Regions from separate parts of the Homo sapiens genome. Here all the other regions are linked to region 1. Evidence: fine-mapped expression QTL. A gene starts in region 1. Each other region holds a variant in brackets. All regions are shown on one strand. Distances are between the middles of the regions.

Region 1 (5,189 bases):
TTCCCATTGTATTCCTTTTCTTCTCCTCACCCTACCACCCAAGAAAGTTTCACAAACTAGATATAAAGGAGATATTTTCTATCCTACTCCAGAAGTACTCAAGAATTACTAATTTCACAGAACACTAACAGAAACCTAAGGGTCATGATGCCCTCAATAATATAACCTGTAAACATTCTGCATGTTAAGGACACTGTATCCTCACATCCATTCCAACCTATTCTCCCCACTGCAGCCAAAGAAATCTTTCAGTAGGAAAATCTGGGCCGGGCACGGTGGCTCACGTCTGTAATCCCAGCACTTTGGGAGGCCGAGGCGGGCAGATCACGAGGTCAGGAGATCAAGACCATCCTAGCTAACACGGTGAAACCCTGTCTCTACTAAAAATACAAAAAATTAGCCGGGCGTGGTGGAAGGCGCCTGTAGTCGCAGCTACTCCGGAGACCGAGGCAGGAGAATGGCGTGAACCTGGGAGACGGAGCTTGTAGTGAGTGGAGATCGCACCACTGCACTCCAGCCTGGGCGACAGAGCAAGACTCCATCTCAAAAAAAAAAAAAAAGAAAAGAAAAAAAAAAGAAAATCTGTTCATGATCTCATTTACTCTCTCATGCCCTCTCTCTCTCTCCCGGTTAGGAGAGACCCCCTCTCTCCCCTTTCCCCTCTACTTAAACCCCTTCAGTGGCTTCCCCTTGTTCCTCAGATAAATGTCAACTTCCTCAGCATGGGCTCCAAATGGCCCTGTGTGTTATAACCCCAGAACACATCTCATATACCATTCCCCTCATCGCTCCTTGTTGCTGCACCACACTGGCCTCATTTCAGGTCTCTAACCAGGTGTGTCCCCCTCTGCCACAGGTCTTTTGTGTAGCTGTTCTCTTTGCCTCTCAGGCCCTGTGATCCCCCTCTTCCCTCAGTTAACATTTATTCATCCTTTAGCTCTTTGCCCAGATTTTCTTCCTTAGCAAAATCTTCTCTGAGACCATGTCTGGAACCACTGTTATACACGCTTATGGCACTGCCTATCTTTCTTCAAAGCATTTATCACAGTTTATGATATTTATTTGTGTGATATTTGATTAAAAATAGTACTTCTCCCCTCCCCCACTAAATGATACGCTCCAGGAGGGCAAGAACATTGCCTATTTTTTCTTACCATTGTATCCCAAACAGAGATTGAATACATTTAATAGGCTTTAAGGGGGTTAGATATGCATTTTCCAAAATCTTAGATATTGTTCTTTTCAGACAGAGCAAGGAAAGAAGGATGTATCTTCTATTAATTGTAGCAAACTATTAACCAGGAAGAAGAGGAGAGAGTCAGTGTCTGATACTCATTTTGTTGCAAACTCAGGATATTTTCCCTGCCTCCTCGGGGAAACCATCCCTGAGGTCAACATGGCACTTGTTTCCAAGACGTGTCATCCTTCCTGAGATGGCCCATTACCCTCTTCAGAGCCCTGTACTTCAGACTTGCCTCCTCTTCCAACCCTCTTTCCAAGGCAGAAACCACACCATCTGATTGCACAGGAAACGGGGAGTGAGAATTCAATGGGCTGCCACTCATTCACTGAGTGTCACACAATAAACATTACTCCACAAAGCCCTTTCACAAACAGCACTTCGTCTGATCCTCAAAACAACCCTGTGAAGCATGCAAAGCAGACATAACTATTCCCATTTTAATAGCTGGGGAAACTGAGGTTCAAAGAGGCAAGTGACTTACTCAAGGTCACAAAGTTTGTGTGAGGCAGAGGTAGGATTTCAAACTACAGACTCTAACACTTAGTCCAATGCTTTTCCTTACATTAGCCGCCCCAACAGTTCCAATACCAGTTACTTAACCTTGGTTTTTTAATTCCCTTAAATAAGCACCTGTTCCTGACCCCTCCACACATCCTCAGCCCAGTTTGCAGTCCCTACCCAGAAGTTTTCAGGTGTCTGTTCAATGGGGCAGAGGGAGTCACAAACCGGGTCACCCTATCAGGGATTGGTCCCAGCCTCCAGAGTCTTTTCTGGCTTTTCCTCTGAACCACTGAGGAACCAGAAACCCCCAGAAATAAAAACACAAAGAGAAGACGTGCCCCACCAGAGCAAGGTCCCTGCTACCCTTTCTGCCCACGTTCTGGCAGGACAACGCGAGGCCAGACGCCGGCCCCTTCCAACAGAAAGACGCGAGGAGAACAAGAGGTCGCCGCCCGCCGGCTGTCAGGGCTCCTGGGCGGGCGGCGCAAGGGATGCGGCAGAGATGGGCCAGATCCCAGGTTCGGCCCAAGGTCACTCTCTCGCAGCCCTGGCCTGGTCCCCAACCGCCCGGAGCGCCCCCTGGTGTCCCGGGCTGGCCTCCCCTCGCCCTCAGGGAGCGGCCTGGGAAGCCTGGGCTCGGGGGCAGAAGGAAGGAGGGTGGGCAGAGGATGAGGAGGCTGCGCCCCGGGGAGGAGCGGGAGGCGCGGGAGGCGGGGCCCTACCTGATAGCTGAGGACGCCGTCCGGCTCGTTACTCCCGGCGGCCGGCATGGCGGAGCCGAACTAGGTCTCCCCCACGGGCTCCAAGCCAAGCATCAGCAGCCCGCGCCCTCTGGTCGGGTCTGAGCAGATCACTCGAACGGCGACCCCCACCCCGGAGCCAACGGTCAACCATCAACCGCCGCCGCCTCCATAGCCACCGGCCCGCGAGGCATCCGCCGCAACCAATCAGCGAGAGGCCTGCGCAGCCAATCAGGGCGCGGAGCACGGGAGGACGCTGTCCGGCGGTACCCTGGGCTACCGCGGGGAGGGGGAGGAGCCGGGGAGCCAACCGCTCCCGGGCCCGGTTGCCTTGGAAACCGCCTCCCTCCCTTCAGGGGCCTCTGGGCGTGAAGGTCCTTCCAACTGCTTGCTAGAAAATCTCTGCTTCTATTTGCAGCTGCACCTGACCCTTGAAAACTGGGAAAGTGTCGGTTTTGCCTATTCTGATTTCATTCCTTGGGAGATGATGTTTAAATTCCGGGCAAACATCCTTCGCGATTGCAGGAGGAGGTAATTGCGGATGAGGGGAGAGGGCCTTCTAAAATTAATTGTTTTTCCTTGAGCTAATGGCCAGATTAAAGAGCATTAAATTGAAGAAGGCAGGCAGTGTCAGGCTCCCTCACAGTCTCACTATGACTTAGGTCTTCTTCTTGAGTCTCAAGTCAGAAGCAAAACACACGGACAGGGTCGAGCTAAGGATGACTGTTGAAGCAATTCCACAAAAAGGCTTCGAACTTTTCCAGGAAATGATCTAAGGCAAACTATTATTTAGCAACAGAACTACTGACTTAACACAAGGTTAGAATATCATGAATAATGCATTAAATTTGATTTGGATTTATAAGAAAAGAGAGGCTGGCTAAAATCGAAGCAACCCTCTCTCCTCAAGAAAAAGAAAGGTACCTTTTGGGTTTTTTTTGTTTTTTTTTTGTTGTTTTTTTTGTTTTTTTTTTTTTTTTGGAGACGAAGTTTCACTCTTGTTGCCCAGGCTGGAGTGCAATGGCGTGTTCTTGGATCACTGCAACCTCCGCCTATCCAGTTCAAGCGATTCTCCTGCCTCAGCCTCCTGAGTAGCTGGGATTACAGGTCCCCACCACCACGCCCGGCTGATTTTTTTGTATTTGTAGTAGAGACGGGGTTTCACCATGTTGGCCAGGCTGGTCTGGAACTCCTGACCTCAGGTGATCTGCCCGCCTCAGCCACCCAAGGTGCTGGGATTACAGGCGTGAGCCATGGCACCCGGCCGTGGGGCCTTTTGTTTTATATGCACTATCATACCAGACTTCAGGTAGGTCCAAATTGGGGTCAGGGGAAGAATTGTTGCAAATAATTCTCAGCCCCTAAAGAAGCTACAGTTGGGGAAGGTAGTCTGATACATGTTAAAACTTTCCACCCCTGCTTACCATCCTTTGTGTTGGTCCTGAAATTGGAAACAAGGTTGGGCTTCAGTATCCCTGAAGCAGAATTGTATTTCTGATGTCCTGTATAAGCCTCCTGTCTAGTCTCTGCGTTTTAGTGTTCATTGCCACACACTCCATCAATCTCTTTACTAATCCTGTCATCTTGAATCTGGAATTCACATCCTACCCTCATCCCCATTTTTGTCCATCAAAATCTTAACCATCCTTCAAAGTTAATCTCAAAAGCCACCCTCTTCCAAGAAGCCTTTCTTTATTCTACTGTCCCTGATACCCCTAACAGATGTCATCTCACCCTCCCCAGAATTCTCAAGGCACTTCATACCTTTCTTATAGCAGTTGTCATGCTGTGGTTATTTAAGTACTTTATATGTTGACTTTAGCTTACTAAAATATTATAAGTTCTTTGAAAGCAATGATTATTTTTCTTATGCCCTTCTGTATACTCAACAGAGCCTCAACCAATCCCAGGCACATAGAAAGTACTTAGTAAATATGAATGCTTTTAATTCAATCTAATAAAAAATGTATTGAACACCTACTAATGAACAGGCCCAAGTAACACTGTAGAGGCAGAGAAATCTAAAATATATATCTCCAAGGGAGCTTAACAGGCTTATCAGGGAAACAGGGTATATGTTAATGAGTAATATTATATAAACCATGAAGATTGCAAAAATTCAGAAGAGAAAATGATCTTCAGGAAGGTTTCACAGAGGACATGGATTCGAGCTAAGTCTGAAAACATGGGTAAGATTTAGCTGACCCAAGGTAAGAAGAGCAAGCATCTCAAGTCTTAGGCAAAGACTTAAGAATAATAATGCACATGGCCCATTCAGGGTAGCCACAATTTGGGCCAAAGCAGAAAGTTATTGAGAAGAGCAGTGGGAGGTAATAGTTGTGATAGAGAAAGGCTGTGGGCTGGGCATGGTGGCTCACACTTGTAATCCCAGCACTTTGGGAGGCCAAGACAGATGGATCCCTTGAACCCAACAGTTCAAGACCAACTTGGGCCAACATGTAGAAATTCCATCTCTATTTTTAAAATACAAAAAAATTAGCCAGGCATGGTGGCATGCACCTGCAGTCCCAGCCCCTCAGGAAGCTGAAGTGGGAGGATCACCTGAGCCCAGGAGAGGCTTCAGTATACCACTCCACTCCAGCCGAGGTGACAGAGTGAGACCCTGTCTCAAAAAAATAAAAAATAAATAAAATAAAAGGCTGTGATCAAATTGTGGAGATCTGGCTAATTCATTCAGACTTTAT
Region 2 (5,223 bases), 22 kb after region 1:
ACCTGCCTAGAAACTGGATGGTTCAAGGGCATCTCATAGAATAAAGCCCACAAGGATGGGTGGTCCATCCCTTCCAATCCAATGTGTTCCCACCTCCCCACTGTGAGTCACCACCCAACTCCCTTTCTCTGCTCCCTGGAGAGTCAGAAGCATCATTTCCTAAGCTTTTCTTGGCAGTTTCTCTCTGCTTCTTCCCTGCCAGACCTGGATTTTCATGAACATAGACAGCCCTTTTACCTCAAGCCTTTTCACGCCCTTATAGCAATAACTTAATCCAGTGCATCATATTATTTATTGATCAGATTCTTTTGGTTGAAAGTGACAAAAACACACTCAAACAAATTTCAATCAAAACAAGAAAAAAATAAGGAAAGAAAAAGAGACAAAAGAAAAGGGAAGAAAGAAAGCAGGGAAGGGAGGAGAAAGCAAAGAAAGTGGAAGAAAGGAGAAGTCTAGGAATAAATGACTTCAGATACAGCAGGACCCAGGAGTCCAAAAGATATCACTGGAGTCCTCTCATTCTTTATCTTTCTCTGCTTTCTCAGCGTTGGCTTCACGGTCAAGTTGACTCTCCTGCCTCATGTAATAGCAAAGATGATCACTAGCCACCCTAAACATACATAACTTCCCATCTAATGATTCCATCAGTGGTCATGTGGGGATGGAGGAGAAAAGACGGGGGGAGGAGTTCATCTTTTTTGCTTGCCCTAAGAAATGTCTCAGAGAAAGCTCTGAGTGGCCTGGCTTGGGTAACATGCCTAACCCTAAACCAATCACTGTGGCTACAAGATTTAAGATTCACCTGGCTGGCGCTAGGGAGTGAGGAGGGCCTCATCTGAATTTCATGGACTAAGAATCAAAGGAAGGTAGTTCCCTAAAAGATGCTAAAGGAAAAAGCAGGTTCTTTGTACTTGACTGCCCCATCCCAATCTCTGCCTCTCCTTGTACATAGTCAACCTCCCCAGCCTCTCTTGCATTTGGTCAGGAGTCAACTTCCACAGACTGACAATTTTATGCTCACCAGGCAGCCCAGGGTTCCAAAGCCATCTAACCCCTTCATGTAGCTCCCGATGTCCTATTTGCGTCTGCTTTTGTGTTGCAGCAAGCAGCAACAGTGGCCACACGGAAGAGTCTTATGATTTGCTCACAAGTCTGACTTCACCCTGAGTGAAGCCTACTTCCCTTGTCTACCCTAAGGCAGAGATCACTGTGCCAGGCCCCAAGCAGAAATGGGAACTCCAGGGCCCTGCAGCCACTGCCACCACCTGTGGTTGTGCAACTTTTGTGCCTTGCACACACTTAGCTTGTCAAGCAAGCATCCTAATGTATAGCTTTGCATCTGCCCAACAGAAAGGATGCCTTTTAGCAATGCTAGCAACCGCCCTGCCTACGGCAAAAGTACAGATAAGGAATGATTGCCCCAAGGCTGACATGGGAAGAATCTCAATGCTTAGACTTTAGACCTGGGTGACATGGCTTGATTAACAGAATTATTGCCGGGTGTTAAATAAAATAGGTGTTCTTATTCCTTCTGGGTGCCATGTGGCTGGGGTATAAAGGCAGTGAACCTGCCGTTATCTGCTGCTCCAGTCTGGCAAACATCTTTCTCCCCCACTGAATGGTAACATCGGCAGACTCTGAGGGGTGCTTCTTTGGGAGTTGACACAAGAGGCCATGGGAAGCAGCAGCCACCCACCTAAATGTACCCTTGTTTCATTTCTATCCTGTGCACTGCTTTCAGCTGCTTTGGGAGTAAACCTAAAACGAAAGAACTTTGAGCAGGATCCAAGCGGCCATTCTTGCCCACCCTCAAACCCAGGCCAAATTTCATGATTCAGCCAAGCTCATCAACAGGCTGTCATGGCTCCTGCCCAAACTCTGGAAATGAGTAAGTAACGCTTTCTGGTGGAGTAACAGGCACATATCAAGAAACTCACATGTTGGCTCCACTGATCCTTCTGTTCAGGCTTGAGTGGCCCCAACTCAGTAAAGTTTAGGTATCCTGGGTCTCCCCGGCGGTAGCGAGGAGTGCTTCTGAGTTTGTTGCTGTTGTTCTTGTTGAACATAGAGCATTTATTATGTTCTGAGCACTGTTCTGAGCAGTTTATACCTATTACCTAATCTAAATTTCACAACAGACTCTATATAATTGTCCTTTAAAAAAAAATGAAAACAGGCTAAACAACTTACCCATGACTACAGAACTGCCAGCTAACTGGGGGACTTCATGCAGTCATTCTCAGAGTCTCTCCTTTCACTGGGGGGGATTCTATCAGGGACCCCCAGTCCCATACTGAGACATGCCTCTCCCATAGCATCTGGCCATGGGATAACGCTGTGAAGAACAGGATAAGTGACAAGCACCCCCAGAAGACACCCGTCTTT[G/C]CCCATCACTGGCAAGGAGAGTGGAATCACCATATGGTGCTTAGATTAATTGCAAAGGGACAAATAAATGCCTAGGAGTCAACTACCCTGACCACTTTAGCTTTCATTTTTTATTTTTTGAGATGGAGTTTCACTCTTGTACCCCAGGTTGGAGTGCAATGGCGCGGTCTCGGCTCACTGCAACCTCCACCTCCCAGGTTCAAAAGATTCTCCTGCCTCAGTCTCCCAGGTAGCTGGGATTACAGGTACACGCCACTACACCCAGGTAATTTTTGCATTTTTAGTAGGGACGGGGTTTCACCATGTTGGCCAGGCTGGTCCCAAACTCCCGACCTCAGGTGATCCACGCACCTTAGCCTCCCAAAGTGTTGAGATTACAGGCGTGAGCTACTGTGCCAGGCCTCACTTTAGCCTTTAAATTTAGCACCTGTGAGTTTATCGGGGTAGCAAATGCCAGGACAGGATAACACCATAGAGAGCCCATCAGCACAGCAGGGCTTCTTCTCCCTCTATTCTTGAAGCATTCTAGCTTTGCACCCCTTAAGTCACTCAATTGTTTGGCAAACCTGGAATGGTTTCCCTTCAACAACAGCTGAATCCCAGGATATTCCAAGTCTTGATGATTAGGGAGTGAAGCCAATATCTTTTCAAAGTCTGAGCTCACCCCCTGTTGTAACCATATATGCCTGTCAAATCTTACTCTAGTCTTGCATAACACACATATATCAAGGCATCACTTCAGGTCTGTTTCTCCTGGTGGTTAAGATACGAAGGGGCCAGACACTGTGGCTCATGCCTGTAATTCCAGCACTTTGGGAGGCTGAAGGAGGAGGATCACTTAAGCTCAGATGTTTGAGACCAGCCTGGGCAACATAGGGAGATCCCATCTCTACAAAAAAAAATAGAAAAATTAGCTGGGTGTGGTTGCACATGTCTGTACTCCCAGCTACTCAGGGGGCTGAGGTGGGAGGATTGCTTGAGCCTGGGGAGGCTGAGGCTGCATTGAAGAGTTGATATGGGAGTGGGGCAGGGAAGTGCTGGGAAGGGAAGGGGGTGGTCCCTGGCTAGGGCTGCACCCCCAGGCCTGTGCCCAGGGACCTAGGTGAGGACAGGCATTTCTGTTTTCATGCCCAAACGTTGCATTTCCCAAGACCACCGTGGCCCACCACAGTCCTATCCTGTGCCTATAAAAACCCCGAGACCCGAGCGGGCAGAGACACAAGCGGCTGGACGTCAAGAGGAACAGATCAGTAGAGGAACGCACAGGCAGCTGGACATCGAGAGGAATACACTGGTGGAAGAGCATACCAACATGCAGTGGCAGATGCCAGCACGCTGGCACGCCATCGGCCCACGGAAAGACATAGAGTTTGCCTGGGGCAGTCAGAGGAGAGCCCAGCTGCTGAGCGGCCCAACTCAGGGGAAAACCACCTTTCCACTCCATCTCCCTTCTGGCTCCCCTATCTACTGAGAGCTACTTAAAATCAATAAAACCTTGCACTCATTCTCCAAGCCCACATATGATCTGATTTTTCCGGTACACCAAGGCAAGAACCCGGGATACAGAAAACCTCGCGATAAGGCAGAGGGTCTAATCCAGCTGGTTAGCACAGCCGCCTACAGACGGCAAAATTAAAAGAGCACACGGTAGCACACGCCCACTGGGGCTAGGAGCTGTAAACACTAACTGGCGACAGAGGAACGCTCCGTCTCAAACAAACAAAAGAAAAACATGTTGGCACTGTCCAAAGGTAGACGCTGCCGTGGGATCTGAACCCCACAACCTGCCCATCTGTATGTTCCATAGAGATTTCAGCAGCCGGGCCCTAAAGAAGCGAGCCACTCCCCTTGTTGCACTCCCTGTGAGGGGGACAAGGGAACCTTTCCCGTTTCACCGTGACGGTGCCACTGCACTCCAGCCTGGGCAACAGAGTGAGACCCTGTTTAAAAATATATATATATGTATATACATATATATGTTTATATACGTATATAAACATATATGTTTATATACGTATATAAACATATATGTTTATATATGTGTGTGTGTGTGTGTATGTATGTATATATATATATATATATATATATATATATATATATATATATATATATATAAAGGAGTTCATTCACACTCCTCTCAAGTACCGTTGGAAAAAAGTTATGTCATATAAACAAACTAGACAATCTATACCCCAGTCACCTTTTCCATTGAGTGGTTAAAGGATTCACAGACCCCTGAGGTGTTCTAGGGTATCCCATCAAACTGATATAACTCTATGGGCAACTGAGAGTGTGTTTTGTGTTTTTTGTTTTTTCCTCACTAACCATGGTTTTTTTTCTTAGTACCACTCCTCCCCAAACAACAGCATCAAATACCACCAACTCCCTGCCTGGCAGTGGGTCCCAACTCTGAGAAAACCTATACACATCTATACACATTACAATTGTACGTGACTATTTTGCCCACTACCACAGTGGGGGATTTAAAGGTCTTCGATGATAGTAGCTCTTCAAAGAGTTTCTGTAAATTCCTGATTTCAAACAATAAAATCTATTTTAATCTGCCCTCAGCAAACATAACTTACATTCCATTCATGGAGAAAGAAAAGGTTATTCTACTTTAGGGCTTCCTTTGCAGTCTTTCCTCCTGATCTCTGGGTGGTTAGAAATCCTTGAGATCAAAGGCCTCTGGATTTATCTGCAGGTCCAGGTGGAACAAACCCAGGAGAGGGCCAAGGGGCAGTGCTTGGGTCTGCATGGCCTCTGCCCACTCCACCCACCACACCCAGGAGGAGGGACCACTTCGTACCTCTGTGCTACCTTTGGACAGTGCCAACA
Region 3 (5,223 bases), 51 kb after region 1:
TTCAGCTCTGGCTTCAAGACTCCCTGAACGCTGCCAAGGCCAACCCTAACTCAGAAATGCTGGGAGAGACAGGGCAGAGGGTAGGGACAGGCCTTCACCTCTGTTTCCTACCCGCTGGGCCACTCTTCTGCTCTTGAAGACTCCCCAACCAGCCCTTTTTGCCATAGCTGTTGATAGGTAAGTGGGGTTGCTCACCAAACTTCCAGCCTTCAATTCCACAAACATCTACTGAGTACTGTGTGCCTGGCTCTGACCCAGGCAGAGGGGATGCCATGACAAAGGAGACAGACCCTGCCCTGAAAATACTAAAAACCCCCATAGGTCAGAAGCCTTTTTTTTTTTTTTTTTTTTGAGATGGAGTTTCGCTCTTGTTGCCCAGGCTGGAGTACAATGGTGTGATCTCAGCTCACCACAACCTCCGCCTCCCAGGTTCAAGCGATTCTCCTGCCTCAGCCTCCCTAGTAGCTGGGATTACAGGCATGTGCCACCACACCCAGCTAATTTTGTATTTTTAATAGAGATGGGGTTTCTCCATGTTGGTCAGGTTGGTCTCGAACTCCCGAACTCAGGTAATCTGCCTGCTCCAGCCTCCCAAAGTGCTGGGATTACAGGCATGAGCCACCGTGCCCGGCCAGAAGCCTCTTACAACACTAGCCACAGTGCTGTGGCAGTGATGCACCTGTAACAGGTGTGAAAGGGCATGGACTGCAGAGTCCAACACCTAGGAATTCAAATCCCAGCTCTGACCCTTCCTAGCTCTGTGACCTTGGACAAGCATTTGGCCTCCCTGAACCTGTTTCCTCTTCAAAAAATGGGGGCAGACCGGGCACAGTGGCTCAAGCCTGTAATTTCAGCACTTTGGGAGGCTGAAGCGGACAGATCACTTGAGGTCAGGAGTTTGAGACCAGCCTGGCCAACATGGTGAAACCCCATCTCTACCCAAAATACAAAAAATAATTAGCCAGGTGTGGTGGTGCGCGCTTGTAGTCCCAGCTGCTCGGGAGGCTGAGGCACAAGAATCACCTGAACCCGGGAGGCGTAGGCTGCAGTGAGCCAAGATGGCACCACTGCTTTTCTGCCTGAGAGACAGAGTGAGACTCCTTCTCAAAAAAACAAAACAAAAAAAAGGACTGGGCGTGGTGGCTCACGCCTGTAATCCTAGCACTCTGGGAGGCCGAGGCAGGCAGATTGCTTAAGGTCAGGAGTTCGAGACAGCCCGGCCAATATGGTGAAACCCCGTATCTACTAAAAATACAAAAATTAGCCAGGCGTGGCAGAGCATGCCTGTAGTCCCAACTACTCGGGAGGCTGAGGCAGGAGAATCGCTTGAACCCAGGAGGCGGAGGTTGCAGTGAGCCGAGATCATGTTACTGCACTCCAGCCTGGGCTACAGAGTGAGACTCCATCTCAAAAAAAAAAAAAAAGAGCAGTTGAGTCCCTTACATGGTGGGTGAGGGATATGAGATAGGTCATAAATGAGATTCATGTGCCACAGAGTGGCTGGCATCAAGTAAGAGTGTCACAAGCATGCATTCCATTTTATTCATGGTACGAGAACAATGCACCATGGAGTATGTAGCCAGGAGGTGCCATTTCTGCCTGGCGTGGCTAGGGCTGGTCTGCAGTGGAAGCCAGATTGGAGCTGGGCCTTAAAGGATGAGTGTCTAAGAGAGAAGAGTGGATGAAGGGCATTCCCACAAGAGAATGGCATAAGCACAGTCCTAAAGACATGAATGTGTTTGTTAAAGAGATCTGGTGTGGCTGAAGCTTAGGTTTGTTTAGGAAATGAGACTTAAAAGATGTTAAATTGGCCAGGGACAGTGGCTCACCCCTGTAATCCCAGCACTTAGGGAGGCCGAGGCGGGTGGATCACTTGAGCCCAGGAGTTCAAGACAGCCTGGGCAACATGTCAAGACCTTTTTTCTATAAAAATTACAAAAATTAGCCTGGCATGACGGCATGTGCCTGTAGTCCCAGCTACTCGGGAGGCTGAGCCAGAGCATGACCCTGTCTCAAAAAAAAAAATGTTGAATTGACATTCATGTCATGCTAAAAGCATTTATTTAGAAAGTAAGAAGGAGTCGTTGAAAGTGTTTCATCTGTACTGTGACTTCATTTCAGAAGGATGGCAGCTTTGGAGGAGGATAATCGGCAGGAAGAGAGGCAGAGGA[C/T]TCACAGTCTGGAGAGGAAGTTCTTACACTCACTTGAGAGTAGGAGATGATGGGGCCTGAACTAGGAAAGGCTGTGGGACTGAGACACCTTTAGGCTGAGAGTCTCCACAAGCTTAGCCCTCCTCGTAGGAGGCATGTGGTGTCTGGGGCTCTCCCAGATTGACCTCCTGTGCTCAAACTCCCAATAGTGAGGGCAGGAACTGACTCCACACTTCCCAGTGTAAGCGCTGGGGCCACTCCAGTAGAGCTGCTTCCTGTCCTTGTCCTCCCCCAGCCTCCCTCCTTCCTCTAGGTTAGGGGTGATGCTGAAAAGAGGACTAGGGCTGTGGAAGGAAGGGCTGAGTGTGAGCCCTGTTGAGTTCATTTCTTCAGGAAGCTCACATCTTCCCAGGGAAGACAGATACTTGGCAGCACTTATAAAGCAAGGCCAGACCAGCCTGGGCAACATATCAAAATCCCATCTCTACAAAAATAAAAAATTAGCAGGCATGGTGGTATTTGCCTGTGGTCCCAGCTACTTGGGAGGCTGAGGTGGGAGGATCACTTGAGCCCAGGAAATTGAGGCTGCAGTGAGCTGTGATTGCACCATTGCACTCCAGCATGGATGGCAGAGTGAGACCTTGTCTCTAAAAAAGATACAAATAAAGTAAAATAGGCCAAGCACAGTAGCTCATGCCTGTAATCCCAGAACTTTGGGAGGCTGTGGCAGGAGGATTGCTTGAGGCCAGGAGTTCAAGACCAGCCTGGGCAATGTCACAAGACCCCATCTCTATAAAAAATAGAAAAGTTAGCTGGGCACGGTGGCATGTGCCTGTGGTTCCAGCTACTTGGAGGGCTGAGGTGGAAGGATTGCTTGAGCCCAGCAGGCTGAGACTGCAGTGAGCCTTGACTGCACCATTGTACTCCAGCCTAGGCAATAGAGTGAGACCCAGTCTCTAAAAAAAAATAATAAATAAATCAAGGCAAGCAAGTATCAGGGATGCAATGACAGGGTCTGGTGGACAAGGAATGTATAGATTAGGCTTCTGGAAAGGGAAGGGTGAAGAGTTTGGCAGAGATGGGAGGAGCTTGGCAGTGATCTCTAGGGAATCTTTGTAGCAATGGAAAGGTTGTATGGAATGGAAGCAAGCATATTAGCGGTCCTTCCTCTCAAACTGGGTTCTTTCGTTATCTTTCTCCTCCTAACCCTATGCTACCCATCCTTCGGAAGCTCTTTCACCTGAATCTCTTGTACTGGAGTGTATTAGTCCATTCTCATTTATAAAGGAGAGAGGTTTAATTAACTCACAGTTCTGCAGGGCTGGGGAGACCTCAGGAAACCTATAATCATGGCAGAAGGGGAAGCAAACATGTCCTTCCTCATGAGGTGTCAGGAGAGAGAAGAATGAGAGCCGAGCAAAAGGGGAAGCCCCTCATAAAACCATCAGATTTCGTGAGAACTTACTATCACAAGGATAGCATGGTGGAAACTGCCCCATGATTCAATTATCTCCCACTGGGTCCCTTCCATCACATGTGGGGATTATGGGACCTACGACTCAAGATGAGATTTGGGTGAGGAAACAGCCAAACCATATCATTTCACCACTAACCCCTCCCAAATCTCATGTCCTCACATTTCAAAACACAATCATGCCTTTCCAACAGTCCCCCCAAAGTCTTAGCTAATTCCAGCATTAACCCAAAAGTCCAAGTCCAAACTCCCATCTGAGACAAGGCAAGTCCCTTCCCCTATGAGCCTGTAAAATCAAAAGCAAGTTAAGTCACTTCCTAGATACAATGGAGGTATAGGCATTGCGTAAATACAACCATTTGAAATGGGAGAAATTAGCCAAAACAGAGGGGCTACAGGCCCCATGCAAATCGAAAATCCAACAGGGCATTCATTAAGCCTTAAAGTTCCAAAGTGATTTCCTTTGACTTCGTGTCTCACATCCAGGTCACGCTGATGCAAGAGGTGGGCTCCCGTAGCCTTGGACGTGGGGGTTCTAAACTGTTAACTTTTCACCCTAAACTTTGTGACTCTGTGAGCTGCAAGTGCCCAGGTAGGCAACTCCTCTGACTAGCTAGACAAGTGACATAATGCCAGGCTGGCATAGGCAGCATCTAACAGGCAGAGTAGCCTGTGTTCAGTAGGGCAGAGTTGGCAGTAGCCCCAGTATCCCCTCCAGAGCACCCGCCCCTAGCAGGCCACCATATACACGTTCACCTTCTCTCTGTCTGTCCTGGACTTGTTGCCCTGGACTCTCTTCTAAAGCCAATTCTCTCCAAAGGCCAATTCCAGCATCTCTAAATCATCTGCATGGTCAGGACGCACTGGCTCACACCTGTAATCCCAGCACTTTGGGAGGCTGAGGTGGGAAAATCACTTGAGCCCAGGAGTTCAAGACCATCCTGGGCAACATAGTAAGACTCTGTCTTTACAAAAAAATAAAAAATTAGCTGGGCATGGTGGTATGTGCCTGTAGTCCCAGCTACTCGAGAGGCTGAGGTGGGAGGGTCACCTGAACTCAGGAGGTCAAGGTTGCAGTGAGCCCTGATCATGCCACTGTATTCAGCATGGGTGACAGAGCGACACCCTGTGTCAAAAACAAAAACAAAACAATCACCTGCCTGAAAAACCTAAGCTAGTCATTCTTATTTTTCTGGGTCCTGGCATCCTTTCAGAATCTGTTAAAATCCCTAGAATAGTGCACCACTGCCCACAATAATATGCAAAACCCACATTTTTGCATTTAATTCCAGGGAATTTGTGGACCCTATGATAAACAACCCTACCCAGAGGGCTTTCAGACGCTAGAGATACTTTAAGCAACATTCAGTTCAGTGAGGAAAGGAGGAAAAAACCCTCAGATCCATGGTCAGAAATCTCTGCCGTCCACAGTGGGATAAAATTTCCCACACGTTTGACTGTTTGATCAGATTAACCAGCTCTCATTACACACACACACAAACAGGACTGTGTCTCTGCCGAAATACAATGTCCCTGCTCTCTGACCTCCACTCCAGGCACCCAGTAGTAGCCCTATGAGAGTGAGTCTAAGGGCATTTG

Evidence for each region.
Region 2: its variant is fine-mapped to the expression of SLC4A8 in whole blood (TOPMed, PIP 0.98).
Region 3: its variant is fine-mapped to the expression of SLC4A8 in monocytes (Quach 2016, PIP 0.95).

The regions. Positions count from the first base shown.
Region 1 is chr12:51,422,313-51,427,501 of GRCh38, reverse strand. It overlaps SLC4A8 (solute carrier family 4 member 8), which reads right to left and starts at 2,671. Exons shown (of 25, transcript NM_001039960.3): 1 at 2,467-2,671. The coding sequence starts at 2,514. SLC4A8-AS1 (SLC4A8 antisense RNA 1) reads left to right here and starts at 2,174. Exons shown (of 3, transcript XR_001749147.2): 1 at 2,174-2,262; 2 at 2,903-3,015. RefSeq lists an enhancer at 2,053-2,112 and silencers at 2,223-2,432, 2,703-2,912.
Region 2 is chr12:51,400,004-51,405,226 of GRCh38, reverse strand. It overlaps a transcript of SLC4A8 not described here. Among named protein-coding and RNA genes, the nearest start is that of GALNT6, 11 kb to the right of the region's middle. The variant G/C (reference allele first, on the strand shown) is at 2,386.
Region 3 is chr12:51,371,762-51,376,984 of GRCh38, reverse strand. The region is part of intron 4 of GALNT6 (polypeptide N-acetylgalactosaminyltransferase 6); the gene reads left to right. Among named protein-coding and RNA genes, the nearest start is that of GALNT6, 17 kb to the left of the region's middle. RefSeq lists an enhancer at 5,105-5,223. The variant C/T (reference allele first, on the strand shown) is at 2,172.